4 linked regions of the Homo sapiens genome follow. The protein of the gene in region 3 purifies or fractionates together with the protein of the main gene of each other region. This does not show direct contact. Each region holds a gene or a part of one and is shown on either strand. Other genes may lie near its edges.

The links.
Region 1: the proteins of MAPK14 (region 3) and RHBDF1 purify together in Homo sapiens (affinity purification with mass spectrometry; 4 studies listed by BioGRID and IntAct, with this or other methods). This does not show direct contact.
Region 2: the proteins of MAPK14 (region 3) and CCDC8 purify together in Homo sapiens (affinity purification with mass spectrometry; 5 studies listed by BioGRID and IntAct, with this or other methods). This does not show direct contact.
Region 4: the proteins of MAPK14 (region 3) and OBSL1 purify together in Homo sapiens (affinity purification with mass spectrometry; 8 studies listed by BioGRID and IntAct, with this or other methods). This does not show direct contact.

The regions. Positions count from the first base shown.
Region 1 is NC_000016.10:62,618-69,639, reverse strand, and holds part of RHBDF1 (inactive rhomboid protein 1), read left to right. Parts: intron 1-4,600; coding exon of another isoform or gene 4,601-4,624; coding exon 4,625-4,741; coding exon of another isoform or gene 4,742-4,810; coding exon 4,811-4,941; intron 4,942-5,839; coding exon 5,840-6,053; intron 6,054-6,457; coding exon 6,458-6,667; intron 6,668-6,742; coding exon 6,743-6,865; intron 6,866-6,944; coding exon 6,945-7,022. UniProt on the Homo sapiens protein: Regulates ADAM17 protease, a sheddase of the epidermal growth factor (EGF) receptor ligands and TNF, thereby plays a role in sleep, cell survival, proliferation, migration and inflammation. Does not exhibit any protease activity on its own.
Region 2 is NC_000019.10:46,410,565-46,417,693, reverse strand, and holds the start of CCDC8 (coiled-coil domain-containing protein 8), read left to right. Parts: upstream 1-4,129; 5' UTR 4,130-4,883; coding exon 4,884-6,500; 3' UTR 6,501-7,129. UniProt on the Homo sapiens protein: Core component of the 3M complex, a complex required to regulate microtubule dynamics and genome integrity. It is unclear how the 3M complex regulates microtubules, it could act by controlling the level of a microtubule stabilizer.
Region 3 is NC_000006.12:36,072,808-36,079,829, forward strand, and holds part of MAPK14 (mitogen-activated protein kinase 14), read left to right. Parts: intron 1-65; coding exon 66-177; intron 178-883; coding exon 884-913; intron 914-1,241; coding exon 1,242-1,289; intron 1,290-3,040; coding exon 3,041-3,155; intron 3,156-3,729; coding exon 3,730-3,801; intron 3,802-5,027; exon of another isoform or gene 5,028-5,057; intron 5,058-7,022. UniProt on the Homo sapiens protein: Serine/threonine kinase which acts as an essential component of the MAP kinase signal transduction pathway.
Region 4 is NC_000002.12:219,568,539-219,575,754, forward strand, and holds the start of OBSL1 (obscurin-like protein 1 isoform 1 precursor), read right to left. Parts: upstream 3,002-7,216; 5' UTR 2,695-3,001; coding exon 1,683-2,694; intron 1-1,682. Other genes in the region: INHA (inhibin alpha chain preproprotein), read left to right, coding at 3,837-4,104, 6,156-6,988. UniProt on the Homo sapiens protein: Core component of the 3M complex, a complex required to regulate microtubule dynamics and genome integrity. It is unclear how the 3M complex regulates microtubules, it could act by controlling the level of a microtubule stabilizer.

The sequences.
Region 1 (7,022 bases), on a different chromosome or scaffold from region 3:
TTAATCCAGAAGACCTGGAGGCTGGGCTGCCAGACAGCTGGTGACCCCCTTCTCAAGGGAGATCTAGGATTGAGCTTCAGATTAGGAGTCAAACAGAAGACTGAGGGTCAGAGAGCAGCGTGTGGGTGGGGATGCTGGAGGAGCCACATCCCCCTGGGATGAGGCTCATGTGAGCTGAGGACACGTCTGGGAAGGTGTCCCGGGGTGAGGCCCCTTGCTCCAGCTGACCTCGGCAGCAGGCAGTTCCTTGGGCGGAGCAGAGCCCAGGCTTGATGGTTCTGGCCCCGGGGTTGGCAGTCAACTCCGCCGCCAGTTGTCCCTGCCAGCATGGTCCTGTGAGTGTGCAGGGCAGGCCTGAGTACAGAGGTGGTTGCTGCTCACACCTGAGGATGCAGCTCTCCACTGGCTGTGGCCACTGTCTATGCCTGGACTGGCCAGAGCTTCTCTCTAGTCTCTTCCCAAACTCGACACCTTTGGAGGGTTCTGTCCCCAGGTGTCCCCAGGGCTGCCCTCTTGTTGCATATGCTCTAGGGTCCTTTCACCCCCCAGCTCCTGCCCCTCAGAGAGTGCCAAGTACCCACAGGCTACACCACCCTGTGATGGAGTCAGCCGCTGCTACTGTGCCAGGCACTGCTGTGACCCCTGATTTCCAGATGGGAAAGCTGAGGCTTGCTTAGGGTTGTAGGTGGTGGAGACACATGGGGCCCAAGCATCAGCCTGGGCTGTCCCCAGTGGCCTCCCTGCATCGGCTCCTGCTTTCTGGCTCTCCCTGCACCTGTGCACGCGGCCAGCTTGATGGGTGCCCAGACATCCCCAGAGCAGAAACCTGAGTTAACAGGACTCTCCACCATCCCCCACTCAGCCCTTCCACACCAGGCTCTGCAGGCAGCCAGAGGGGACGTCAGCATGCATGGCGCCAGTGGCTCCCTTGACCCTCCTCGTCCCTCAGCCTCATCGAGAGTCCTGCCCGCAGCCCCCCCAGCTGGTCCTGGGATGCACTGTGGCTTTGGGTGTCTCCTGATGGGGCTGGGCCTGGGCTGGCAGCTGTGAGGCTGCTGCAGTGACTCAGATGCTGTGTGACCCCAGGCAGTGAGGCCTTCCGTGGGCCACGGTTTCCCCATACACTGAGGGGTCAGCGGGGTGGGGGAGACACTGTTTGGATCCCCCCGAGGGGCTTTCTGGGAACAAGAGCCCACTGTGCGCCTGGGGAAGGCCTGGACACTGAGCCACTGTCTCTGGGAGGGCAATGTGCCGCTCCCTGGCCAGACTCTTTGTCCAGCCTGGGCCTGCCCCTCCCCACGCCTACTCCGGCTCTTCCTTTGGAATCCCACCCACTTGAGGCCCAGATGGGGATCTAGGCACACAGGGGTGGGGCAGACCAGAACACCCAGCACTGCCCACCCGCAGGACCTATAACTGTCGGTTCTCAGGTCCCCTCCTGCCTGCACTCCTAGCAGTGGGGGTTTTTGTGGAGGTGGGAACCCCAGGAGACCTGGATGTAGAGGCATGGCGGCTGGTGCCTCCTTCATGAGCTGAGCACTCTGCTGTCTCCTGGGGCCGACTGTGGTCCCCGGCTGAGACAGTCCTGGGGAGGTTCCTGGGGCCGACTGTGGTCCCCGGCTGAGACAGTCCTGGGGAGGTTCCTGGGGCCGGCTGTGGTCCCCGGCCGAAACAGTCCTGGGGAGGTCAGGTTCCCCGTACACGCTCACAGCTCTCGGCTCTTCTCACCCCCTGACTGTTCCTGCTTGCATCCGCTCATGCCAGGCAGCTCGTCTTCCCAGACCCAGCTGAGAGGTCATCTTGAGGAATCCTCCGTTACCCCAGATTAGGGACCCCGATGGCCTGCGTTGTTCAGTGATCAGTGCCTACCCAGCGGTGGCTTCAGAGCAGGCCAGTCCTGAGCACTGTGGAGGCAGCAGTGACAGGACAGTGGCCCATACATATGTGAATGAACTCCTGCCTTGTGCTGTGCCCAGGGATCCAGGCCAAGGACCGCCTTTGGGTAGTAGGGCAGCCTGAGGCTGCAGGTCCTCCCACACAGGGGAGGGTGGGCAGAGCGCATTTGCAGGGCTCTGAGATGGGAGGGAGTCAGGTGTGAGGAGCAGCGGAGAGCAGGAGCCAGGGAAGTCATGGATGTGTGTGAGCCCATCAGCTGGCAACGGTCTCTGTTGGCAAAGGTCACTCACACTCCTGAGTGAAGAACCAGCTGGATGTCGCCTAGTGCTGCTGGGCACAGGTGGAGACTCCTGGAGAGGCTGGCCCCCTGGATTCAGCCTGCTGATTCCTGGCAGTGGCCCCAGTCTCTACGCTGGGCCCTGCTCCTCTCTGGCCCCCATAATGGCCTCACTAAGAGCATTCGTCCATTTTCTGGGTGAGAACATGCTGGGAGTGTACTCAGAATGCTGTCCCAGCACTGTGGGTTCCGGAAGCCCCTTGCCGAGCACCACCTGCCTTCCCAACGTGTCTGATGCTGTCTGAAATTCCACCCTTAGTGTCTGAGACTCAGAGGTGGCCCCTCCTGGCTATTCCTTACCAGCAGGGTGATGGTACTGCAGTCCATATACCCTGTGGAGGGAGGGCTGGGGGACGATGAGGAAGTCTAGCTGTGACCCCTTCACGCTGTGGCTGGGCCGTATCCAGGACACGCAGGTCTGGGCTGGGTTTGGGTCACGAGTCAGATGCAGAGGGGTCTCCTGGTGCAGTTCCCAGAGGGACCTTGACCCACCCAGTTCTCAGTTAGGATGCCTTTCTGTCCGACCCTGTTGCACTCTGGGGCTCTGCATGGGTGAGGGGCCCTGGAGGGATTTCCCAGTGATGTGGAGTTGCTGCCCTTGGCTCGTGCCCCTGATTCCAGGCCAAGTATGGGCCAGGGACAGGAACTCAGCCTTAGGGGGCCATGTGGATGGAATGATCCCTGGGCACCATGCCTGGGGAGTGCCCCAAAGCTTTGCCCCCCAGCTCTCACCTGGGACCTGAAGTGCACAGTCAGCTCAGATAAGGGGCTGGAGCGTGAGGGGTGGGGTAAGAGCCAGCAGAAGGCATCCCTGAAGTACCCCCTCCCACCTGTGTCTGTTCTGGTCCCTGTAGGACCAGTAGGGGCTGTGAGCAGCATTCCCAGCCTTTCCCTGGTAGTACAGGGTCGGAAGGAGCCGTGAGCTCTGTCCCAGGCCTGTCCCTGGCTGGCATAAGACCATTAGGAGCTGTGAGCAGCACCCTGGGCTGTCTCTAATTGTGCTGCCCTCCATATATGACCGTGAGCGAGGCAAGCCTGTGTTTCCTGGCCTCAGTTTCCCTATTTGTACAGCATAGGTGGGGCTTTCCTCCAAGCAGTTGGGAGGGAGACCTGTGAGTGAAAGCCATTTCTGGGGCCTTGGTGGGTGGGTTGCCGACCCAGCGGCTCCGAGCCTGTCAGAGGCTGCAGCTCTTTAAAGAGGCTGAGGAATTTGGGGTTTTCTGTCCAAAATTGCTTCAGCTCTGGCCAGCCCCCCACTATCTGTCTCGTGTCATGCTCAGGGGCCCTTCTCAATCTGGGTCTCCACTGGAATCGCCGTGTGGTCCCCCTGGGTTGGGGACAGCTGCAGGTCTGCCAGGAAGGTGTAAGGGGGAAATGGAGTCGTAGTCATATGGCCAGGCAGTGGTGGCCAGAATCGAACCCTGGCCTATCTGCTCTGGGGCCTTCCGTGGGGCCCTGGCCCCGTGCCTGGCATGTCATGGTAGAGCCAAGCTTGCAATGCCCCGCAGCCCCGGCACCGAGCCGCCTCACTGCTGTTTCTGGGCGCGTGGCGTCACCTGGTGGTCACTACGGTGTCTGCGCCCGGGTGGTTTCTGGAAAGTCATTTGTGCCCAGGAGCCTGGGGCCACTAGCTGCTGCTGTGTCACCCTCTTTCCTGAATGTGGTGACTCTATGCACTGGACCGATCACACACCTCTTGCAGGCTGTCATGTGCATAGTGGGCCCTTTGTCCCTGGAGTGGAAGTCTGGGTGGGTAAGAGGGTGAGGCCTGGTAAGACAGGTGTGAGATTTGCCCTGGGCACAGACTAGGGTGAGCCTCCTGTCACTGAGACCTCAGATCGGCTGTCCCCTGTGTGTGGAAACCCCTGCAACCCCAGCTGTGCTCACTCCCCTCCTTCAAGCCTTTGCTCAGCTGTTACTTCATGGGGAGGCCTCACTGCCTCCTGTCAAGCAACCCTAGTTTGCTTCCCCCGCTCCCATCATACTTAGCATCTTTTAACCAGTACATTCACTCATTTAAAAATATTGTCTAGACTGTAAGCTCCAGGAGGGCAGGGATTTTGTCTCGTTTCTCCACCAATGTGCCTCAAGCACCTAGAGCAGTATCCTGACCATAGTGTGTGCTCAGATAGTTGTCCCATGGACTTATGTTGTCTGAGGACCTAGGCTGTGCCCAGCACTGTCTGCTGGGATGAACAAGGCAGGCACAGAGAAAGTCGGTGCTGAGCACACAGTAGTGCTCTGACAGTGGGGGACATGAGCACCACGGTTGGGCTCATCACTGCTTCTCCCTCCTCCCGGGTCTGGGTGCAATGAATCTTCAGATGTCAGCTTTGTCATTATTGAATAACACACCATGCCCCGCAGGCCTGCCTTGCTCTGCCAGGAACCATGAGTGAGGCCCGCAGGGACAGCACGAGCAGCCTGCAGCGCAAGAAGCCACCCTGGCTAAAGCTGGACATTCCCTCTGCGGTGCCCCTGACGGCAGAAGAGCCCAGCTTCCTGCAGGTAGGCCCTGGCCTGCAGGGACTGTGGGTGCCCCCTGTCCAGTACCCTCACCATGACCCTGTTGCCCAGCCCCTGAGGCGACAGGCTTTCCTGAGGAGTGTGAGTATGCCAGCCGAGACAGCCCACATCTCTTCACCCCACCATGAGCTCCGGCGGCCGGTGCTGCAACGCCAGACGTCCATCACACAGACCATCCGCAGGTACCAACACCGCCCAGCTGCTCCATGGGGTGGGAGCTGGGGGCTGGTGGGGCAGAGGCAGGTACACAGAGGATGGAAATGAGAACAAGGGCCCTCTTGTTTCAGCTTCCTCCTCCATCTCGGTCCCCACCATCCCCTTGCCCTCCTCCTGTTCTGGATACTGACCGCTCTCACCCCACTACCCTGCTCCACTCCCTTCTCTTCAGCACTCACTCTCTCCTTCTCTGTCTCCACCGCCCGGATGCTCTTGCCTCTTAGCAGCCGACAAGTACGCTTCGGGCGTGTCCACACTCTGCCCCTCTTGGGTCCCCGGGCTGCCCGCAGGGCCTTCCCACAGCGCCAGTCTCTCTCTTGGTCCCTGCTCAGGTATCTCATACAGGTCATGAGTGTGTTGGTGTTTTCTGGCATGTGCTTGGCATGTGACCTCTTGGGAGCTGCCAGTGTGGTTGGCATTCCCTGGGGCTCCTAACGGCAGGTGCTGGCAGTGTTTTTGTTTGCATGTCCAAGTGCTGTGGACAGCCTGCCTGGGCCCGTAAGCACCTGCTGTCTGAGCTCTGTGGTGTCCTGGGGCCAAGCTCTCTCGGGTTGAGCTCTCAGCTCCTTCTCTGGACTCAGTGCCTCCCCTCAACTGCCCCTCAGGGATGGTGGGGTGAGGGCCTCTATGAAGCACTCAACCGGGCAAGGCCAGCTGCGGTCTAGTGGAAACTTGGAGTTGGCTAACAGTTCAGGGGGTGGCTGGAACCCACTCATCCTCTTATTAGACCTTGCCCACTCAGACCCTGGTCCCTGGAGTGACTACAGGCCTGGGGGCAGCATGCTGCCCCGGAGGAGGGCCTTTGAAGTCCCCTGCCTGGGAGGGGCGATCTGGCCGCCCCTTGCTGAGTCCCTGCCATGCCAGGGGGACCGCCGACTGGTTTGGAGTGAGCAAGGACAGTGACAGCACCCAGAAATGGCAGCGCAAGAGCATCCGTCACTGCAGCCAGCGCTACGGGAAGCTGAAGCCCCAGGTCCTCCGGGAGCTGGACCTGCCCAGCCAGGACAACGTGTCGCTGACCAGCACCGAGACGCCACCCCCACTCTACGTGGGGCCATGCCAGCTGGGCATGCAGAAGGTATGCCTGCCTGTTGCTGCCTCCTGCAGGCCCCTCCTTCCGCTCTCAGGGGCTGGGGCTGCGGACACAGCCAGCCTGAGCAGAAGGGACTCTCTGGGAGCTCACAGTCTGGAAGGGCAGTCAGACAGCCTGCTCGTGAAGGCACCTGAAACAGTCTCTGGGAAGGGGTACCTTGGGATGGGGACATGGTCTTGGGATTGCACCAGGGGGCCAGTGTCTGGATGGGAGAGCATTCCAGGCAGGACCTCTAGGTGCTGTGGGGTGGGAGTGGTGGCCATAGAGCTGTCCAGGGGCCCGTGAGGAGTCAGGAGCAGCAGTCACGCTGTCTTTGCAAGGCCTCTGTGCCTCTGGGTGAGCTAGGAGCCCCCATGGTCCTGACTCCAGCATCTCCTCCCCTCCTCCAGATCATAGACCCCCTGGCCCGTGGCCGTGCCTTCCGTGTGGCAGATGACACTGCGGAAGGCCTGAGTGCCCCACACACTCCCGTCACGCCGGGTGCTGCCTCCCTCTGCTCCTTCTCCAGCTCCCGCTCAGGTTTCCACCGGCTCCCGCGGCGGCGCAAGCGAGAGTCGGTGGCCAAGATGAGCTTCCGGGCGGCCGCAGCGCTGATGAAAGTGGGTGCAGGGGCCAAAGGCGGGGTTGGGGGCCGACCCAGCAGCCGGGTCTCATGCTCACTTCCCCGTCCCCAGGGCCGCTCCGTTAGGGATGGCACCTTTCGCCGGGCACAGCGTCGAAGCTTCACTCCAGCTAGCTTTCTGGAGGAGGACACAACTGATTTCCCCGATGAGCTGGACACATCCTTCTTTGCCCGGGTAAGAAGTGCCCGGGGTGTCCCCCCACCCCACGTTCCCTTCCTGCCTGTGTCCACCCTGACCTCATGTGTTTGCTCAGGAAGGTATCCTCCATGAAGAGCTGTCCACATACCCGGATGAAGTTTTCGAGTCCCCATCGGAGGCAGCGCTAAAGGAC
Region 2 (7,129 bases), on a different chromosome or scaffold from region 3:
CTGACTTCAGGCGATCGCCCGCGTAGGCCTCCCAAATTGCTTGGATTACAAGCTTGAGCCACTGCCCCTGGCCCGCGTGTCCCATTTTTTTTTTAAATGGCAACAAAATGTAGCTGGGTAGAGGGATTTCAGCCGTGTTTTGTTTCTCTTCCCCATTCTTTTCCAACTTTCCATTTATTTTAAACAAATGCAAAAGTGAGGCTACAGTTCTCGTTTTTATTATTTTATTCTGTGATGGCTGGAGAAGGGTCTCACCTGCCAGAGATCTGTGCAATTAAAAACACCCACAGCTGAACCGTTCAGGGGCTGGCAATTTTTTTTTTTTTTGAGATGGAGTCTCGCTCTGTTGCCCAGGCTGGCGTGCAGATGGGCGATCTCCGCTTCCTGCAGCCCTGACCTCCCGGGCTCAAGCGATAGGCCCACCTCAGTCTCCCGAGTAGCTCAGACCACAGGCGCACACCATAATATTCGGCTAATTTTTAAATTTTTTGTGGAGACCGGAGTCTCGCTATGTTGCCCAGGCTGGTCTCCAATTCCTGGGCTCAAGCGATCCTCCTGCCTTGGCTTCCCAAAGTGCTGGGATTACAGGCATGAGTCACCGCCCCCGGCCGGAGGTTGACGATTTTTGCAAAAATATGGAACATTTGGGATTTTCATTTCTTAGATTATCCTCCTTGCGCCGCTCCCTGCTCCCCCACCAAATAAAAAAAGAAAAACAAACAAAAAACAAAACAAACAAACAAAACGAAAGCCCTTTTATGACTACAAAACCCAAACGTCTCATCTGCGAGGTCACCACTTGGAAGGCACTGTCATGAGCCCTCAGACTTGCGATTCTTTAATCAGCATTCCTGAAACCTAGGTGTCCTTAGGATTTTTCATTTTTTGGTTTCTACAAACAGCTTTTCAGGGAAGCTGGCTTTGGGGATGAGGCCTAAGGGAGGCACCAGGGGCAGAAAAGAGGAGCTCCTGCCCTCGTCCTCCGTGGCGCCCCCACCCCCACCATCTCCCTGCAGCCTCGCCTCCGCCTCCGCCCCACCCGCTTAGTTTTGATCCGCGCGGAGGAGCGCGTCCCGTGGTTGCCATGGAGACCGCCGGACTGCGGAGGCCACAAACTGTGCGAAGGGGGAGGCGAGGGGCGGGGCCGCGGGAGGCCCGGGGGCTGAGCGCGGCGGCTGGGACTGAGCCAGGGAGAAAGAGGAGAAAAATCCAGCGAAGCCCAACGACCTGGCTCTGCAAGAGAAAAACAACCTGAATAAGCCGGTAATTGTGAACAGGCCGCTCGCTGAGACCTTAACGTCCCCTAAGCCCCCACATCTTTTCTTTCCCTCTGGCCCGTCTCTTTTTCCTCCGTTCCCTCTTTAAAAATTTGCCTGGTTCCTTTATGAGTTAAATAAGATCACATTTATTTATTTATTTGAGACGGAGTCTCGCTCTGTCGCCCAAGGTGGAGGGCAGTGGCGCGATCTTGGCTCACTGCAACCTCCGCCTCCCAGTTCAAGCGATTCTTCTGCCTCAGCCTCCCCAGTAGCTGGGATTACAGGCATGTGTCACCATGCCCGGCTAATTCTTATATTTTTGTTCGTTTCTTTTTTTTGTTTGTTTGTTTTTGAGACGGAGTTTCGCTCTTGTTGCCCAGGCTGGAGTGCAATGGCACGGTCTCAGCTCACTGCAACCTCTGAATCCCGGATTCAAACGATTCTCCTGCCTGAGCCTCCGGAGTAGCTGGGATTACAGGCATGCGCCACCAAGACAGGCTAGTTTTGTAGTTTTAGTAGAGGCGGGGTTTCACCATGTTGGCCAGGCTGGTCTCAAACTTCTGACCTCAGGTGATCCACCCGCTTCAGCCTCCCAAAATGCTGGGATTACAAGCGTGAGCCACCGCGCCCGGCAATTTTTGTATTTTTTAGTAGAGATGGGGTTTTGCCATGTTGACCAGGCTGGTCTCAAACTCCGGACCTCAGGTGATCCGCCCGCCTCAGCCTCCCAAAGTGCTGGATTAAAGGCGTGAGCCACGGCGCCCAGCCTGAGATGGAGAATTTTCAAAAGAGTAGAGACAGATCGGACCTAAGTTTTTAAAAGATGCCCCCAGCTTCTGGATGGGGCCTGGATTGCAAGCAGTGATGGGGAGGCGGGAAGCCCAGTGAGGGGGCTTTGTACACATCCAGGCAAGAGTGGCTGCAAGTATTGTGGCTGCTAAGTGGTTAAATGGTGCAACACATTTAGGAGAAGGGGATTAGCTGTGTCTTTAGCGTCAGCTAGTGTTTTAAATGCTAGTGCCCAAGATCTGGTTCTAATATTATATTAGATCCACCACTCAGAGCTGTGCAACTTCAGACCAGCCTCAGTTTCACCGTCTGTAAAAAGATGATTGATGGCACTGGCCTTACCATGTACCTCTGAGGGTTCCTAACAACGAGGCCTATTCAACATGTCTCTGGATGCCTGGTTCCAAAGATGTGGACCAATGCTAGTCGCATGTCCTGTAGCAGGAGGAGCCACGGACAAAACCCCTCAGACACTGGGTTAAGGAAGGATTTGGCTTTTTCGGCCGGGAGCTTCGGCAGACTCGCCTCTCAACTGGCGGGAGCTTCGGTAGACTCGCGTCTCAAGAACCGAGCTCCCGGCCGAATGCGACTAGCATTGGTTCACATCTTGATTCTTTTTTTTCTTTCTTTCTTTCTTTTTTTTTTTTTGAGACGGAGTCTTGCTCTGTCGTCCAGGCTGGAGTGCAGTGGTGCGATCGCGGCTCACTGCAACCTCCGCCTCCCGGGTTCAAGAGATTCTTCTGCCTCAGCCTCCCGAGTAGCTGGGACTACAGGCACGTACCACCACGCGCGGCTAATTTTTTTGCATTTTTAGTAGAGACAGGGTTTCACCGCGTTAGCCAGGATGGTCTTGTCTTGATCTCCTGACCTCGTGATCTGCCCGCCTCAGCCTCCCAAAGGGCTGGGATTACAGGCGTGAGCCACCGCGCCTGGCCATCTTGACTCTTTGGTCGACACAAAAGGCAGACTATTCTGGATTCAAATCCAAACTCAACCACTCCCCATGGCTGTGACCTTGAGAGTGTGGTTTTATGTCCTTGGGCCTCAGTTTCCTCAGCTGTCTAATGGGAATTGTACTCATGCTACCAGTCTCCTGTTATAGCAAGGATTTCCTGAGTTCATTCATAGAAAGCACTGGGAATGGTGCCTACTACATAGGAAGCGCCTCATAAACCGTGCCTATCCTTAGCCATCTCATTCTTTTTTCGAAGTTGCAAAATATTTCACTGTAAGATACTACCATAAAATAGAGGCAGTCTCTACTCGTGAACTTTTAGGGTTTTTTGTTGTTGTTTATTTGTAGGGGTTTTTTTGCACTTTTGTTTTTTTGAGACAGTCTCCCTCTGTTGCGCAGGCCGGAGTGCAGTGGCGCGATCTCTGCAACCTCCACCTCCCAGGTTCACGCCATTCTCCTGCCTCAGCCTCTCGCGTAGCTTGGGACTACGCACGCGCACCACCACACCCGGGGTAGAGACGAGGGTTTCACCATGTTGGGCAGGCTGGTCTCGAACTCCTGGCCTCAAGTGTTCCACCCACCTGGGCCTCCCAAAGTGCTGGCATTACAGGCATGAGCCACCGCGCCTGGCCATGAACATTTGGGTTTATTCATCCCCTCAAAAATATGTATTGAGCCCTGACCTGCCAAGCGCCACAGTGGGACTGTTGCAGTCAGGTACCCATTTCTCTACCCACGCATATAGGTGTACGGGTACCGATAGTCGCGTGAATTTAAAATGCTAATCTGTGGTGCCAGTGGCTCTCAAAAAGTAGAATCCACTAGCACACCCACCTCCCGGACTTGGCTGGAAACTTGCACATTTCGGATGGCAGGTTTGGGAACCGCTGCCTTTCAGGAAAGGTGCTGACGTGGGCCACTGCCGCTTCGCTGGGAAGCAATGGGCCCAGCTAGGCCCGGGGCGCGGCCACACCCCTGTGGGGGAGGGGAAGGAGGCCGCCCCGAAGGGAGTGGACAGCCCCCCTGTCAGTCTTCCAGAGTCTGGGAGTGTAAGATGAGACGGGGGAAGGTGGGCCTCATTCTGGCGGAGGGCGAGGAGGAACTTCCTGCCCGCGCGCTCCACGGTGCAGAGCTCTAAGCGCGCGGGCTGGCAGGCTGCGGCGCGTCAAGGTCAGCCTGGAGCTGGGTGGCGGCCTGCCTGGGGGCGGGGGACCCTACTGGAGGCCCGGGCTGGGGCCTCCCAGCGCCTCGGCCATATTGAATAGCTTCGACTGGACCGTCTTTGTCTGCGAAGTCCTGTCCCAAGTTCCAGCCGCGTCCCTGGGGCCTGGGGCAGGAAGAGTCGCTGGCAGCCCGCGCGCCCCAACTTGGAGCTGGGACACCACGTTTCCAGCTTGGAGTGGGCCTTGAGCCTTGGGACTGACCTCGCCCCCGGCTCACGTAGGCATCCTGGAAATTGATTCCCCCAAGTCCTTGGTGGGGGAGCCGGACTTGGTCAAGACTGTACTTGTTGCAGGCGAAGAGATTGGAGGCGTTTGGCTCGTCCCTGGCTAGGGAGGTGAGACTCTCCGGTCAGCGTTGCTGGAACTCCCCCCATCCAGTCCCTCCCTCAAGACTAAGGGCTACAGTAGTTTGTTGGGGCTCATTGCCCCCTCACCCCAGATATCACCCTGGAGATCTTAAAGACTCTCGAGAAAAGCCACGTGGGGGGCTGGTTCCCCTGGGGCTTCCTGCCGTCCCCCGACTGCCTCATTCTTTGGAGCGTCCCCGATGTCTGCAAAGATGTGGATTTGGACGTCCTCGTGGAAGCCCTAAAGCCCGTGGGGACATTTAAGAAGATCGGCAAGGTGTTCCGCAAGGAGGAGGACTCCACGGTGGGGATGCTGCAGATCGGGGAGGACGTCGACTATTTGCTCATCCCCCGGGAGGTCAGGCTGGCTGGGGGCGTCTGGAGAGTCATCTCTAAGCCCGCCACCAAGGAAGCAGAATTTCGGGAGCGGCTGACCCAGTTCCTGGAAGAAGAGGGCCGCACCCTGGAGGACGTGGCCCGCATCATGGAGAAGAGCACCCCGCACCCGCCCCAGCCCCCCAAAAAGCCCAAGGAGCCCCGAGTGAGGAGGAGAGTGCAGCAGATGGTGACTCCTCCGCCCCGGCTGGTCGTGGGCACGTACGACAGCAGCAACGCCAGCGACAGCGAGTTCAGCGACTTCGAGACCTCCAGAGACAAGAGCCGCCAGGGCCCGCGGCGGGGCAAGAAGGTGCGCAAAATGCCCGTCAGCTACCTGGGCAGCAAGTTCCTGGGAAGCGACCTGGAGAGTGAGGATGATGAGGAACTGGTCGAGGCCTTCCTCCGGCGACAGGAGAAGCAGCCCAGCGCGCCGCCTGCCCGCCGCCGCGTCAACCTGCCAGTGCCCATGTTTGAGGACAACCTGGGGCCTCAGCTGTCCAAAGCGGACAGGTGGCGGGAGTATGTCAGCCAGGTGTCCTGGGGGAAGCTGAAGCGGAGGGTGAAGGGTTGGGCGCCGAGGGCGGGCCCCGGGGTGGGCGAGGCCCGGCTGGCCTCCACCGCAGTGGAGAGCGCAGGGGTATCATCGGCGCCAGAGGGCACCAGCCCGGGGGATCGCTTGGGAAACGCGGGAGATGTTTGTGTGCCCCAGGCTTCCCCTAGGCGATGGAGGCCCAAGATCAACTGGGCCTCCTTTCGGCGCCGCAGGAAGGAGCAGACAGCACCCACAGGTCAGGGGGCAGACATCGAGGCTGATCAGGGGGGAGAGGCTGCAGATAGTCAAAGGGAAGAGGCCATAGCTGACCAGCGGGAAGGGGCTGCAGGTAATCAGAGGGCAGGGGCCCCAGCTGACCAGGGGGCAGAGGCTGCAGATAATCAGAGGGAAGAGGCTGCAGATAATCAGAGGGCAGGGGCCCCAGCTGAGGAGGGGGCAGAGGCTGCAGATAACCAGAGGGAAGAGGCTGCAGATAATCAGAGGGCAGAGGCCCCAGCTGACCAGAGGTCACAGGGCACAGATAACCACAGGGAAGAGGCTGCAGATAATCAGAGGGCGGAGGCCCCAGCTGACCAGGGGTCAGAGGTTACAGATAATCAAAGGGAAGAGGCCGTACATGACCAGAGGGAAAGGGCCCCAGCTGTCCAGGGTGCAGATAATCAGAGGGCACAGGCCCGGGCTGGCCAGAGGGCAGAGGCTGCACATAATCAGAGGGCAGGGGCCCCAGGTATCCAGGAAGCTGAAGTCTCAGCTGCCCAAGGGACCACAGGAACAGCTCCAGGAGCCAGGGCCCGGAAACAGGTCAAGACAGTGAGGTTCCAGACCCCTGGACGCTTTTCGTGGTTTTGCAAGCGCCGGAGAGCCTTCTGGCACACTCCCCGGTTGCCAACCCTGCCCAAGAGAGTCCCCAGGGCAGGAGAGGCCAGGAACCTCAGGGTGCTGAGGGCCGAGGCCAGAGCAGAAGCTGAGCAGGGAGAGCAAGAAGACCAGCTGTGAGGTGAGGGCTAGAGACAGCCCACGGGCCCTCCCTCCAAGTGTGGGAGGGAGAGATGCTCTGCCTCTGAACTTCAAAGTGGAGGTGGAGTGCTGGCCACGTCTCCACCTAACAACCCTCTTTATTCTCTTGTTAAAGTTTTGTTCATGCTTTGATTTTTTTTTAAATTTTTTAGAGACAGGGTCTCACTCTGTTGCCCAGGCTGGAGTGCAGTGGCATGATCATAACTCACTGCAGCCTCAAACTTCTGGCCTCAAGTGATCCTCCTGCCTCGGCCTCCCAAAATGCTGGGATTACAGATGTGAGCCACCACACACACCATCTGATTAAAAAAAAAAAATACTGATTCCTTGTAGCAACCCAAAAAATGTAAAGAAAGAATTCGACACAATGGGGTTGCGTCACCTATAGTTTTCATTTCCTCAAATGCAACTCAAGGTGCTCAGCTTGATAAAGGGAGAGAGGGAGGGCAGGGGAGAAACTGACTCCTTTTTCCATCTCTTTTTTGCCTGCACACTTAATGTGGACTGCCTCCTTGGACTTAAAAAGAGTTGAGCCAACATGCAAATCAAAAAACATTTATGAACTGATTTCTTAGCTTTGGACTTGACAACTGACGAATGCTCTGGGG
Region 3 (7,022 bases):
TCTTCTGAAGATAAGAACTTTCTTAGGGGTTCTAGATTGTTATGTAACTTTTCACTAATTTCTAGGTATCTGGTGACCCATCTCATGGGGGCAGATCTGAACAACATTGTGAAATGTCAGAAGCTTACAGATGACCATGTTCAGTTCCTTATCTACCAAATTCTCCGAGGTCTAAAGGTACAGATAATACAAGTAATAATTTTTTAAAATGAATTCTCCCTTTCTCCCCTCCTTTTAGGGCTTAAACAAACAAGTAAACAACTTTTCTAATGGAAAATTCAAACACATAAAATCACAGGTAAAGGTCATATAGTACAGTAAACTGCCATGTTCACTCAGTGACAACAGTTACCGACATATGGCCAATCATGTTTCTTTTGTATTTCCCAAGCCCTGGATTATTTTAAAGCAAGTCTAGACATTATATAATACCATCCATAGATACTTCAGTTTGCATATCTGAAAGATAAGGACTCTTCATTCTTACATCTAAACAATAATTTATTGATGTAATCTAATATCTGGTCAGCGTAATGTTGAGATTTTCAAAAAATCCTCAAGAAAGACTAATTTATTTGTTGGAGGGGCAGATAAACAGTGTTTTAAAATTAAACCCATCTTTGATATTTAGCTGCTTTGAGTCCTTATTGAGCTCCAGAGTGCCAACCAGAAAATAGATTAAAAGCTCAACTGAGTGGAGTCAATGGCTGTGGAAATTATAGTAATGGTAAATGTACACAATACTGATAGTTACTTATGCTGATTTCTAATCTTACTATTAACACTAGCAGTTCTTACTGATTCATGAAAATGTGCAGCAAATATGTTATATAATATGACAATAGAAGGTTGGAGGTAACTTTGACTTTTTTCTCTTTTGCAGTATATACATTCAGCTGACATAATTCACAGGGTATGTATTGTGACTTTGATTACATTATTTTGGGGAAGTGGGGTGAGAGTGGAAGAATGGCATTTAGCCAAGATCCTAATCTAAACTTTAGCCATTGAAATGTTGATTGATTGCAACTTTACTGTAGGTTTAAGCTGATTAAAGAAAGAAGATGTGTAGTTTTTTTCTATGTAAGGCTAACTTGGACTGGATATTGACTGTAGGATGGAGATTGTCTTTTGATAGCTGGATGAAGTCTTTTATGTCTGGATCCTCATTATTACCTGTAGGGGGAGAATTGATCATGCATCATAAAGTTGATCCTGTCTTCCCTGTATTTGCTTCCTAGGACCTAAAACCTAGTAATCTAGCTGTGAATGAAGACTGTGAGCTGAAGGTAAAATGAAGAGACAGTATTCATTGTTTGCTTTACTTTGAGATTATATGTTTGACTAAGCAGGCAGACTTTCTTAGGGAGTAGCTTTGTGAGCCATGACTATCTGAAATTCGTATTATTTTTATTATCAGACTTTGAAATTTAAACCATTTCTGAGTAAGCTAAGTGACATTGAAAGTGGCATCACTTGTTTTTATTTTAACATAAAGTTAAATTATAAATTTGATATATTAGTCATAATAAAGGAGGATAATAGTCAAATATCAAGTAAGTAGGCCCAAAGAGGTGATAACTAGATTAAATACATTTCTAAGAGGAGAAATGGCAGAAACCCACTCACTCAAAATAATTCAAATAAAAAATAAGTGAATTAATTGTTTCTAAATAGCAAGCAGCTCTAGAACTTTTGTTCCATTTCATTTTTTTAACTTGAAAAAATGTCTGTACATTAGAATGCACCATTTCATTTGGCAAAATTATATATCCACTTAACTCACATTTATGATAAAGACCATTTCTTTTTTTTTCCTTTTTTTTGGGATGCAGTCTCACTCTGTTGCCCAGTCTAGAGTGCAGTGGTGTGATCTTGGCTCACTGCAACCTCTGCCTCCCGGGTTCAAGCGATTCTCCTGCCTCAGCCTCCCGAGTAGCTGGGACTACAGGTGCACGCCATCACACCCGGCTAATTTTTGTATTTTTAGTAGAGATGGGATTTCACCATGTTGGCTAGGATGGTGTCGATCTCCTGACCTCGTGATCCACCTGCCTCGGCCTCTCAAAGTGCTGGGATTGCAGGTGTGAGCCATTGCTCCCAGCCAAGAACATTTGGATTACTTTAAAAAGTTTATGGCCAGGCGTGGTGGCTCATGCCTGTAATCCCAGCACTTTGGGAGGCCAAGGCGGGTGGATTATGAGGTCAGGAGATAGAGACCATCTTGGCCAACACGGTGAAACCTCATCTCCACTAAAAATACAAAAATTTAGTTGGGCATGGTGGCGGGCACCTGGAGTCCCAGCTACTTGAGAGGCTGAGGCAGGAGAATGGCGTGAACCTGGGAGGCAGAGCTTGCAGTGCGCCGAGATAGTGCCACTGCACCCCAGCCTGGGCAACAGAGCAAGACTCCGTCTCAAAAAAAAAAAAAAAAAAAAAAAAGTTTATTGTGTCCCTTCCTAGTCAATCCCTACCCCTCCACCCCTAACTCTGGCTCCAGGCAACTATGGATCTGCTTCTAACACTATAGATTAGGTTTATCTTTTCTGGAGTTTCATGTAAATGGAATCATATAGTGTGTATTTTTGTGTGTCTGGCCTTTGCTTGGTGTAATGATTCGGTATTGTTGTGTGTGTCAGTGGTTTCTTCCTTTTTATTGGTAATAGTATTTTGTTTTATGAACATAACAGAATTTTTAAATCTATCCACCTGCTGATGGACATTTGCTTGAGTTTGAGGCTGTGTAAAGCAACTGTGAATGTTTATGTGCAAACCTTTGTATGGACGTAAGTTCTCATTGCACTTGATTAAATACCTGGGAGTGACATTTTTGTTTTGCTTTTTGTAATTTCATTTTAAGTTCTTGCTGTATATTTACCATACATTCTAAGTATGGACCAGGAAATCTCTTTATGAAAGTGCTATTTTGTTCTCCTTTTTAATAAGGCAACAGAGGTTTGTTTGTTGTTGTTGTTTTGTTTTTTTTTCCCTGCCTGTTTCTAAGTCTTAGCAGTTTGTCTGTTCCTCTTCTGCCCTTTAGATTCTGGATTTTGGACTGGCTCGGCACACAGATGATGAAATGACAGGCTACGTGGCCACTAGGTGGTACAGGGCTCCTGAGATCATGCTGAACTGGATGCATTACAACCAGACAGGTATTACTCGCCTTGGTTATTTAGGGCCTTATTTAATTCCATGTTGGATGCATTTGGGATTCTCAGAAATAGAGATGGTGGGAGTGGGAAGAAATGTCTTTTCTTCCCTCAGTGATCCTTTTAAAGCCTGCAAGTAAAAATATTTCACTTCCTCAGATGGGGAAGTGGGGTTTTATACACAGCTTTTAAACCTTGTGATTTAGCAATTGGGTTTTTATTTATTTAGATTTTGAATATATTCTCTGAGTACTTATACCTAAAGACAATTAGTCCATAATTTTAACCCCTCAATGTTACTTGGAAGAATCTACCATTCTACTAATAAGAAACTTGCCCCTTTTTAAACAGCTTATTTCTCTTAAGTGTGTTTTGACTTACCCCACCTTTGAACAGCCCTTTAGTCAGGTGAAGATCTTAGTAAGCTATTTATTTCTGTAAAAATGAGTATGATTGTTGAGCCTCAGATGTCTTAAATAGTAATTTGAATATTTCACCCCTAGTTACGGTTTCATTTGTTGCCAAGAATTGTAACAGTGACATTGCATATACTTTTACTTCTTTTTAATTTTGCCAGTTGATATTTGGTCAGTGGGATGCATAATGGCCGAGCTGTTGACTGGAAGAACATTGTTTCCTGGTACAGACCGTATCCTTTAAAAAGTTTTGGATTCTTGTTTCTTATCTGTATTCCAGTGTCCATGGGTGTATACTCCTTTTACTTATCTCTAGGGAAGACTCTCAGTATTTTGCTTTTATAGTCTAGATAATGCATTATGAGGTCTTTCTTCAAACTGAGTAGCTTGCCTTGCCAAGAAAGAGGCTTCAGTTTACTTTTGTGAGTTGGAAAAATTCCTCATAAGTTGAAAAACCCATCAAGTCTGTCTTCTTTTTGCAACAGTCCCTTATTAATCATCCCACAGCAGTTCTGAGACCTGAGCATACTCATGAGAAACTCCAGATCCCAGTGACAGTTTTAGTCTTCTTGTATAAACACTTAATGAGCACAAGATGCCCATTTATAAATGAAGGGCATCTTGCTGTTATGTTTATGTATTAAAAGGGCTATGTTTGGTACCTGCAGTGATATACTGCTTACTTGTTATGTTTGTTGTTTGACAACAAATAGTAAAAGCAAGAAGTGAAAAGCTTACCATGTAATGTACTTTTGTTTTTCCAGCACAACTTTTTCCCAGATTGCAGCCAAACCCTAATTTACTCCAAGACTTACTGTCTAGTTTATGGTTTATTATAGCCCCTTTATTTTAGCTCCTTTCCTATCTGCGGTATGCTTGTTTCATGGTTTAGTATTAATGTCATGAAAAATGTGGTCTGTTGGAACTCTCATCAGTTCTACTTATGGAAGATGTTTAGGTGAGAAAGATTGTTAAAATATATGTCTAGAATTAGTTTTGGGGATTTTTTCTTTTTTTAATAGAATTGAGTTAACTAGCCTTCAGGTGGTTTTGGTTAGGCAATATTAGACATGCTACCTCTGATCTATTATGCCTAGAGATCTAAAAGCCATTTTAGTCCCTTACCTAAATAAACTAATTGAGTTTATAAACCAGAATGTCAATTCACTTGCTTACAGTTTGGGATATACTTCTGTAATGGCTATGATGTTCATGATATCTACCCACGTGTTCTAACTATCTTCTGCTAGAGAGAATGTACTTTCATTATGAACTGAAAAAACCTCTATTTCTCAGGTAAAGCTGTTTCTTTCTCTCTGAATATTAGGATTGATAACAGAGTTCAGTCTCCCTGTATTTAGCTTACCTTATTACTCCCTACCTCTGGATTTTAAATTAGTTTAATACCTGGTGTTTCTCCTTTGTCCTTTGTTTCATTCACCTTATATCTGTTTCTCAGAAATTTGGTATATATATATTACAGTCCAAGGTAAGAGAATTAGGGAAAATTCATACTTCCCCCTTTCCTCAGGTACATATCTCAGAGTCCCATCCTTGCTTTGTCCTCTAGAGTAGCTGCTGTCCTGATGCTATTCTCTGTTCCCTGCTCCCCTTCCTCTTCTTGTGTCTGTATCTCCAGCTACCATTTAGTCAGTCACAGACCTCCATGCCGGTGTAGACACACAAGGTGGCAGAGAGGGAAAGGCAGTATAACATACAGGTTAAGCACATGCTCTGGAGCCAGATTTCCTGGATTTAGATCTTAGCTCTTTTATTTCCAGCTATGTAACTTTGAGTAAGTTTCCTAACCTCTATTTCTCTCAGTTTCCTTAACCGTAAAATGATAATAATCATACATACTCACAAGGTTGTCGTAAGAATTCAGCCAGAAAATAACTGGAAAGTACTGAGACGAGCCTGCCAGTAAATGTTAGCCATCATGTTCAGTAATGGCCTTGCAAAACAGATTACCCCTTCACCTTCTCACTTAATTGTCTACCTATGAATCATTAATGTTTTGTTTTGTTTTTAATTCTGTGATAGGTAGGAAAGGATGGAACTCCTTGGCAGACTAGTGTTAGAAAGTTTTCGAAGCAGTGTGAGTCTTGTACCTTTGTGGTCCTGTCTCACAGACACCTGTCTATTCCCTGACCCTTTTAAATGCTAACTTTCTGCCTGTAGGAAATCTTCCCTTTGTGCTTAGGTCTTTTTCTTCTGTGAGCTTTAGATAAACAACCTAGTGTTTAAACTTTTTAATAAGGGATTCATTTTTTAATACATGAGAATTCATTTCAAAATTTTGGTTTTAGTTATTTATTTTATTCTACTTGGCTCTTTTTCAGACAGATGTTCTCTCCTGGATTGTAAAAGTCGAATTCAAAGGATTTTTATTTGTAATATACTTAACCTTTCTCTTGTAAGTTGCCATCTGTGTAGATACAGCTTTGATTGCCTGACAAGAGGAAAATGTTTCCCATTATCTTTTCCTGCCTGAACTATACGGTCACTTGTGTTCCAGCATAGTGGTTCTTAACCCTCATAGTGTGTCAGAATCACTTTGCAGAGCTTTTAAAAACTCTAGATGCCTGGGGACCACCCCAAAGACTCCATTTTGTTGTCATGGGTCAAAGCACAGTCTTCTAGTTTGCAGCTAGTGTTGAGTACAACTAGAGTTTAACCCAGTTGAATTTTAGTTTAATCTTGGCTGGTCTTGAAGATGTTAGTAATCTCTATTCATTTTTTTTGAAAAGTACCAATGAGATCAGAAAGTTAATTAGAAAACATCTAGTTGAATCCCCTGTTTTTAATAGATGGGGAAACCAAGACCCAGAGAATATAATCCAAAGCTACCTGTCACATAGGCCACAATTTCTTTTCCAATATTCTGTTCTTCGCTGTTCTTCTAATTTGCAGAACTCCTCTTTAAAAAACCTTTGGAGAATGTATTGGCCTCATACCCTCTTCCTTCAGCCTGAAAGACATGCACCTGTCACTTATTTATGATATTTAAATGCAACCTCTAGAACAGGGGTGTCCAATCTTCTGGCTTCCCTGGGCCACATTGGAAGAAGAAATGTCCTGGGCCACACATAAAATACACTAATGATAGCCGATGAACTTAAAAAAAATTGCAAAAAAAAAATCTCGTAATGTTTTCAGAAAGTTTACAAATTTGTGATGGGCTGCATCCAAAGCCCTGGGCCACGTGCAGCCCGCAGGCCCTGGGTTGGAAAAGCTTGCTCTAGAAGGTACTCATTGTTTGAGTGTCCAGTTTTCTCCCTGTTTTCCTTATTTATTGATCATTTTGCATTTGGAATTGGTGGTTTGGGCTTGTAAGTAAGAACTGTGTACTAGAACTTTTGTGGTATTGCAAATGTTTTATATCTGTGCTATCCAATGTGGTGGTTATAGGCACCAGCTGCCTGTGGCTAATTATTAAGCAACTGAAATGCAG
Region 4 (7,216 bases), on a different chromosome or scaffold from region 3:
AGTCCATTTCAATGCTTCTGGGCCTCAGTCTCCTTACTTGTAAAATGGGGAAAGGGAGAGAAGGGGTTGGACCAGATTGATGATTTCCAAACTGTTCCCTGGGGTCCTCCAGGCCCTAGATTGGTGATTTCCAAACTGTTCCCTGGCTCCCCCCGCCCCAGTCATTTCACATATTCTGCAAGGGTCTGAGTAGAATTTAAAATATTTTAACTCTTTTTTTTTTTGAGATGGAGTCTCGCTCTGTTGCCCAGGCTGGAGTGCAGTCGCGCAATCTCGGCTCACTGCAACCTCCACCTCCTGGGTTCAAGCAATTCTGGTGCCTCAGCCTCTCAAGTAGAGCTGGGATTACAGGCAGGCGCCACCACGCCTGGCTAATGATTTTGTATTTTTAGTAGAGATGGGGTTTTGCCATGTTGGCCAGGCTGTTCTCGAACTCCTGACCTCAAATGATCCGCCCACCTTAGTCTCCCAAAGTGCTGGGATTACAGGGTGAGCCACTGTGCCTAGCTATTTTAACCCTTTTCAAAAGTGTATTTCAAAAAAAAAAAAAGAAAAGAAAAGAAAACAGGATGTTGGAAATCAGAGGATTAACTAGGGCTGCTGGAGAAGCAAGTTTTTGTGTGCGTGTGTGTATGCAACTCGGGGAAGCTCCTCTAGCCTTCCCTCCGGGCTTTTCTTTCCTGATGGAGGTCCAGATCAGCACCAACCTGATGAATCTGTGAGCATTGAACTGTAACAGTGAGGCCACCACCGCAGCCTGGGGGCAACATGCTTGACTGCATGCTAGGAAGGACTCAGGAGAATTTACCAACTTTTTTTCCTCTAAGAGAAAAAACTGGACAATAACTAGTGAAGGTGTACTCTTTTGCGTTGTGATGAAATCCTATTATGGGGAGCGTTACCTTCTGGTGAGTTTGGGGTGTGCTTTTTTTTCCTTTGGAATTTTCTGTTTATGAGAATGTAACCATTTATTGGATATTGTTGGTGATTCAACTTTGAAATATAAACCTTCTCTCCTTCACCTTCCTCTTCTTGCAAACGTGGGGAGCAGTTTAATCAAAGAATAGTAAAAACACGCAGGACATTTGTCCTCCCTCAAGTCTAGCTTTCCACTGAATCACTTGTTTCTCAAGGTGACAGATGCAGCCAGGCCGTCCCCACAGGGTTCAGAGCCTGGTCTCATGAATGCAGCCTTTAATTCAAATTCCTGTATTCAATAAAATAGCCTCCTTATTCTCACTGATGGTTTAGAAGTACCTGTTATATACGTAGACTCAGCAATTTACGCCCATAAACTACTCCTTTATCTGTCTCATATATTGGGGCTCTGGTTGTGAATTCAGTGGGGGAAGGAGGAGTAAAATAACAAAGACGTTGAAAACCACTAGGGAAGAAGAGTTCTAGGGCCCTCCGGATTTGTACATCAATCACTCCTTAGTGGTGTTCCACCATCTGCCTCGGAATCATTTAAGGAGTTTGCTAAGAAGTTCCTGAGTACCCTGGAGACCTACTAAATCCGAATCCCTGGGGAGTGAGAGGCGGGCGGGTTTGGTATTTTAATATTCCCGCGGACCACCTCTCCTCCAGTCTTGGGGGCAGCGCTGGGCACCGAGGAGGGCTGGAGTTCGGAGGGCCTCGGAGGACACTCGAGGCCCCTCCCTAGGTCCCGGGCTCCGCCGTACCTTTCACGTGCAGCTGCACGGCACTGAGCGTCTGGCCCGCCGAGTTGCGCGCGGCGCAGACGTAGAGCCCACGATCCTTGGCCTGGCAGTAAAGCACCTTGAGCACGAAGCCGCCGTCGCGGTCGCGGTACATGAGGCGGCGGCGGTCCGGGAGCAGCGGGCGGCCCTCCCAGTGCCATTCGATCTCGGGCTCGGGCTTGCCCATCACGTAGCAGCGGAACTTGGCGTGCTTGCCCTCGTTCACCCAGAAGGTCTTAGGCGCGCACTTGAGCGGCTCCACCACCGGCGCGGGGGCCTCGTCGGGGTCCGCGGGCGGGCTCTCGGGGGGCTGGTGCACCTGGAGCAGCGCCCCCGCCTGCGCGTGGCCGTGCGCGTTGCGGGCGTGGCACACGTAGACGCCGGAATCCGGCAGCCGAGCCGCCAGGATGCGCAGTGCCAGGCTCGCGCCGGGGCCGTCCTCGGCGCGGCCCGGCTGGAGCGCGAAGTGGCTGCTGTCCCACACTTCGTCCAGGGCCATCCCGTCCTTCTCCCAGTACAGTGTGGGCTCGGGGAGGCCCCCCGCCCGGCACGTCAGCACCACCTCCGCCCCCCGCAGCACCCACTGGGATCGAGGCCCCGTGAGGAAGACCGGGGCGCCCTCCCCGGACCCCGGCGATGGCAGCGGGCGCTCGGCGGGCTGCAGCTCGGGGTCGGAGGCCGGCGGCTCCAGCACGGTGACGGCGGCCGCCGCGTAGGCCTCGCCGGCCGCGTTGCGGGCGCGGCACACGTAGACCCCCGCGTCGGTGGGCAGTGCGGCGGTCAGCAGCAGGCCGTGCTCCGCGCCGTCCGCCGGGAAGCTCAGGCGTTCCGAGGCCGCCAGCTGCTGCCCGCCCTTCTCCCACACCACTACAGGCGGCGGCTCCCCCAGGACCACGCACTTGAGCTCGGCCTCGGCGCCACTTACCACCCGCACAGGCCGCGGGAAGCGCAGGAAGCACGGGGGGCTCCCCTGATCCCCCGAGCTCGCCTTCATCGCGGCGGCCGACCGCCTGCAGCGGCGAACGGTGGGGGGGCAGGGGGGGGTGCGGAGGGCGAGCCGAGGCCCGGGGCGGCGGGGTCGGGGCGCGGCTGGGGACTGGGCGCGGGGACCCGCGGAGCTCTCCCGGGCCTCCCGCTCCCGGCTCGCCTCCTTACCCTCGGCCCCGAGCTGCAGCTCTGCGGCGGCGGCGGCGGCGATTCCCGGGCCCGAAGCCTGGCGCTCAGGGGGCAGTCCTTCCTGTTTGCCTCTCCAGCGAGTGGCCCCGCAGCCTCCCCTGCCCGCTGCCTGGCTTCCTGCTCTTAGGAGCCTCTCTTCCCAGCCCCCTCCCACAGCTTGGGCCTCTTCCCCCTCCTCCCTCCCACCTCCAGCCGCCAGGTCCCCAGCCGCCCGCCAGGCTTGGGCCTGAGTGGCAGAGGCGCCTGCAGCTGCCAATCCCAAAAATATTCTCTGATGACACAGCTGGAGGACAAGAGCCCAGACTGGCTCCACTGGTCTAAGTATAGAGCAGGCAGGACCACCTGCCCCCGGCCCTAGCCCCGGTTCTAGCCCCGGTTCCAGCCCTGCCCCCAAGGGCTGGCCGGCCAGCAGCTGCTTATTGAAAGGGGCCCCAGAAGGTCTGAGGGGTGATGCACTTTGTCTCCCTGACAAATAACACTTTCTGGGGCTGGCCGGCTACAGCTCCCAGGCTCCTGTCCCACCTGATGTCACCTCTGGATGTGTCTGTGTGTGTGTGTGTGAGAGAGTGTGTGTGTGTGAGAATTTGTGTGTGTGTGAGTGTGTGTGTGAGTGTGTGTGTGAGTGTGTGTGTGTGTAGGGAGAAGGTGTTGTATGTTTGCATGTGTGAGTCAGGTCGCTTGAGGCGAAATCCTTCCCAGCCCCTCCCCCACATCCCTGGCGGGAGTGGGAGATAAGGCTCATGGCCACAGACATCTGCGTCAGAGATAGGAGGTCTCAATGCCACGGGCAGGGGCAACTCGGACTGTGGGGCGTGGAAAGGACTGGGGAAGACTGGATGAGAAGGGTAGAAGAGGGTGGGTGTGGGATGGGGAGGGGAGAGTGGAAAGGCCCTGGGCAGACCCTGGCAGAAGGGGCACGGGGCAGGGTGTGAGTTCCCCACTAGCAGGGCCAGGTGAGCTATGGTGCTGCACCTACTGCTCTTCTTGCTGCTGACCCCACAGGGTGGGCACAGCTGCCAGGGGCTGGAGCTGGCCCGGGAACTTGTTCTGGCCAAGGTGAGGGCCCTGTTCTTGGATGCCTTGGGGCCCCCCGCGGTGACCAGGGAAGGTGGGGACCCTGGAGTCAGGCGGCTGCCCCGAAGACATGCCCTGGGGGGCTTCACACACAGGGGCTCTGAGCCCGAGGAAGAGGAGGATGTCTCCCAAGCCATCCTTTTCCCAGCCACAGGTAACGAGGGTGGGGGAACCGGCAGGATGACTTTGAGAAAAAGCAAGGCACAGCATGGGTTTGCAGGCCAGGCGGACCTGGGTTTGAATCCTAGTCCTGCTACTCAGTTGCTTTGCAGCAATAGGCCAGTTACTAAACTTCCTTATGCTTCTGTCTCCCCATCTGTAAAATGGGCTAATGCCCACCTCTCAGGATTAAGTGAGAGGCTGTACCTAGAGTGCATGGCAGGTGGGAGGCATTTGGGAAGTATGCGCTGGGAGACCGGGGGTCTCTAAAGATGGAGATATTTGGGCTTGAGCCCCTTCCTGCCACCTTTCCTCCTATCTCTGCCTCTGCTCGCTGCTCCAAACCCTGTTTCTTTACTCCCAGGTAGCTGACACTGAGAAGCTATCAGAGATACAGGCAAAAGATTAGTTGGGAAACTTTTCTGGAAAACTAGTCTATCTTCTCTTGAGTTCCTGTCTCAACATATATGTGCCCCCTTGTTCCACTGACTGAATGGATAAGCCCTCCTGTGGGTGGGCTTTCTTGTCATCTGGTCCACCTTTCTCTTAGAGAGGACCCCTGCCTCCCTCACTTCAGTCCGTTCGCAGCACAGTGGGGAGAAGGATGGCTTTGGGATCAGGCAAAATCCAAGCCTGGCCACTTAGTCGTTGAACGTCATTTCACCTCTCTAAGCCTCAGTTTCCTTATCTGCAAAATGGACCAATTGTGACTAGATAATGAGAGAAGCCATGTAACAGTATAGTTCCAATTGCCAGTCCATGAACGAGTGCTGCTCCAGGATGATTAGTATAGTCTATGAGTGTGTCAGTGTGAGGATGCTAACTACACATTCTTGAAAGGACTGCCCTCTGTTCTGAGTTACAGCCCTCCTCCTTCTCTTCCCCCTCTTCCTTGTTCTCCATTTTCTTCCCTTTCCCACTTGCCTTTCCCTCCTTCTTCTTTTTTTTTTTTTTTTGGTGTAAACCTGTCTTTTAAAAATGGAATTATTTTAAAGAATTTATCCTACAATATTCCTGACATGCCAAAGATATAAAGAGTAATATAGGCCGGGCGCGGTGGCTCACGTCTGTACTCCCAGCACTTTGGGAGGCCAAGGCAGGAGGATCACAAGGTCAAGAGATCGAGACTATCCTGGCTAACATGGTGAACCCCGTCTCTACTAAAAATACAAAAAATTAGCCAGGCATGGTGGCACCAGCTACTCGGGAAGCTGAGGCAGGAGAATTGCTTGAACGTGGGAGGCGGAGCGGAAGGCAGAGGTTGCAGTGAGCCGAGATGGCGCCACTGCACTCCAGCCTGGGCGACAGAGCTAGACTCCATCTCAAAAAAAAAAAAAAAATGGTAATATGGCTGGGTGTGATGGCTCACGCCTATAATCCCAGCACTTTGGAAGGTGAAGGCAGGCAGATTGCTTGAGCTCAGGAGTTTGAGATCAGCCTGGGCAACATAGCGAGACCCTGTCTCTACAAAACCCACAAAAGTTAGCTAGGTGTGGTAGCACACGCCTGTGGTCTCAGTTACTCAGGAGGCTGAGGTGGGAGGATTGCTTGAGCCCAGGAGGTAGACGCTGCAGTGAGCCGTGATCATGCCACTGCACTCCAGCCTGGGTGACACAGTAAGACTCTGTCTCAAAAAAAAAAAAAAAAAAGAATATAACAACCATCCATGTAGACACCATTCAGGATACTGTTTCACACTATCTGGTGAGTAAGCATTGAAGTCTAATACAAAGTCTTAGTGCTGGTGAAGTGGAGAGAGGGCCTCTTACACACTGCTGATGGGCATGTTAATTGGTAAAACCACTTCAGAGAGAAGTTGGCAATGTCTTCTATTTTTTTAAGTCCCTTCATGATGAAATTAAAAAATGGGAAGCCTACAGAAGCTCTCCCAAAACTCAGGAGAGTCCCCACGTCCCGGAGGGCGTGGAGCAGAGTGCAGCCCATCATTGGCTCATGACTGGTGGCCACATCCCTCCTGCTGAAGAGGAGGGGTGCCAGGTCCTGCCAGTCAGGGCTGCCCTCTCCCTTTTCTTCTGTCTCCTGCAGATGCCAGCTGTGAGGACAAGTCAGCTGCCAGAGGGCTGGCCCAGGAGGCTGAGGAGGGCCTCTTCAGATACATGTTCCGGCCATCCCAGCATACACGCAGCCGCCAGGTGACTTCAGCCCAGCTGTGGTTCCACACCGGGCTGGACAGGCAGGGCACAGCAGCCTCCAATAGCTCTGAGCCCCTGCTAGGCCTGCTGGCACTGTCACCGGGAGGACCCGTGGCTGTGCCCATGTCTTTGGGCCATGCTCCCCCTCACTGGGCCGTGCTGCACCTGGCCACCTCTGCTCTCTCTCTGCTGACCCACCCCGTCCTGGTGCTGCTGCTGCGCTGTCCCCTCTGTACCTGCTCAGCCCGGCCTGAGGCCACGCCCTTCCTGGTGGCCCACACTCGGACCAGACCACCCAGTGGAGGGGAGAGAGCCCGACGCTCAACTCCCCTGATGTCCTGGCCTTGGTCTCCCTCTGCTCTGCGCCTGCTGCAGAGGCCTCCGGAGGAACCGGCTGCCCATGCCAACTGCCACAGAGTAGCACTGAACATCTCCTTCCAGGAGCTGGGCTGGGAACGGTGGATCGTGTACCCTCCCAGTTTCATCTTCCACTACTGTCATGGTGGTTGTGGGCTGCACATCCCACCAAACCTGTCCCTTCCAGTCCCTGGGGCTCCCCCTACCCCAGCCCAGCCCTACTCCTTGCTGCCAGGGGCCCAGCCCTGCTGTGCTGCTCTCCCAGGGACCATGAGGCCCCTACATGTCCGCACCACCTCGGATGGAGGTTACTCTTTCAAGTATGAGACAGTGCCCAACCTTCTCACGCAGCACTGTGCTTGTATCTAAGGGTGGGGGGTCTTCCTTCTTAATCCCATGGCTGGTGGCCACGCCCCCACCATCATCAGCTGGGAGGAAAGGCAGAGTTGGGAAATAGATGGCTCCCACTCCTCCCTCCTTTCACTTCTCTGCCTATGGGCTACCCTCCCCACCCCACTTCTATCTCAATAAAGAACACAGTGCATATGACTTGACATATGTTCTCCAGCTTCTCTGATATGGAGTTGGGCCCCCAGG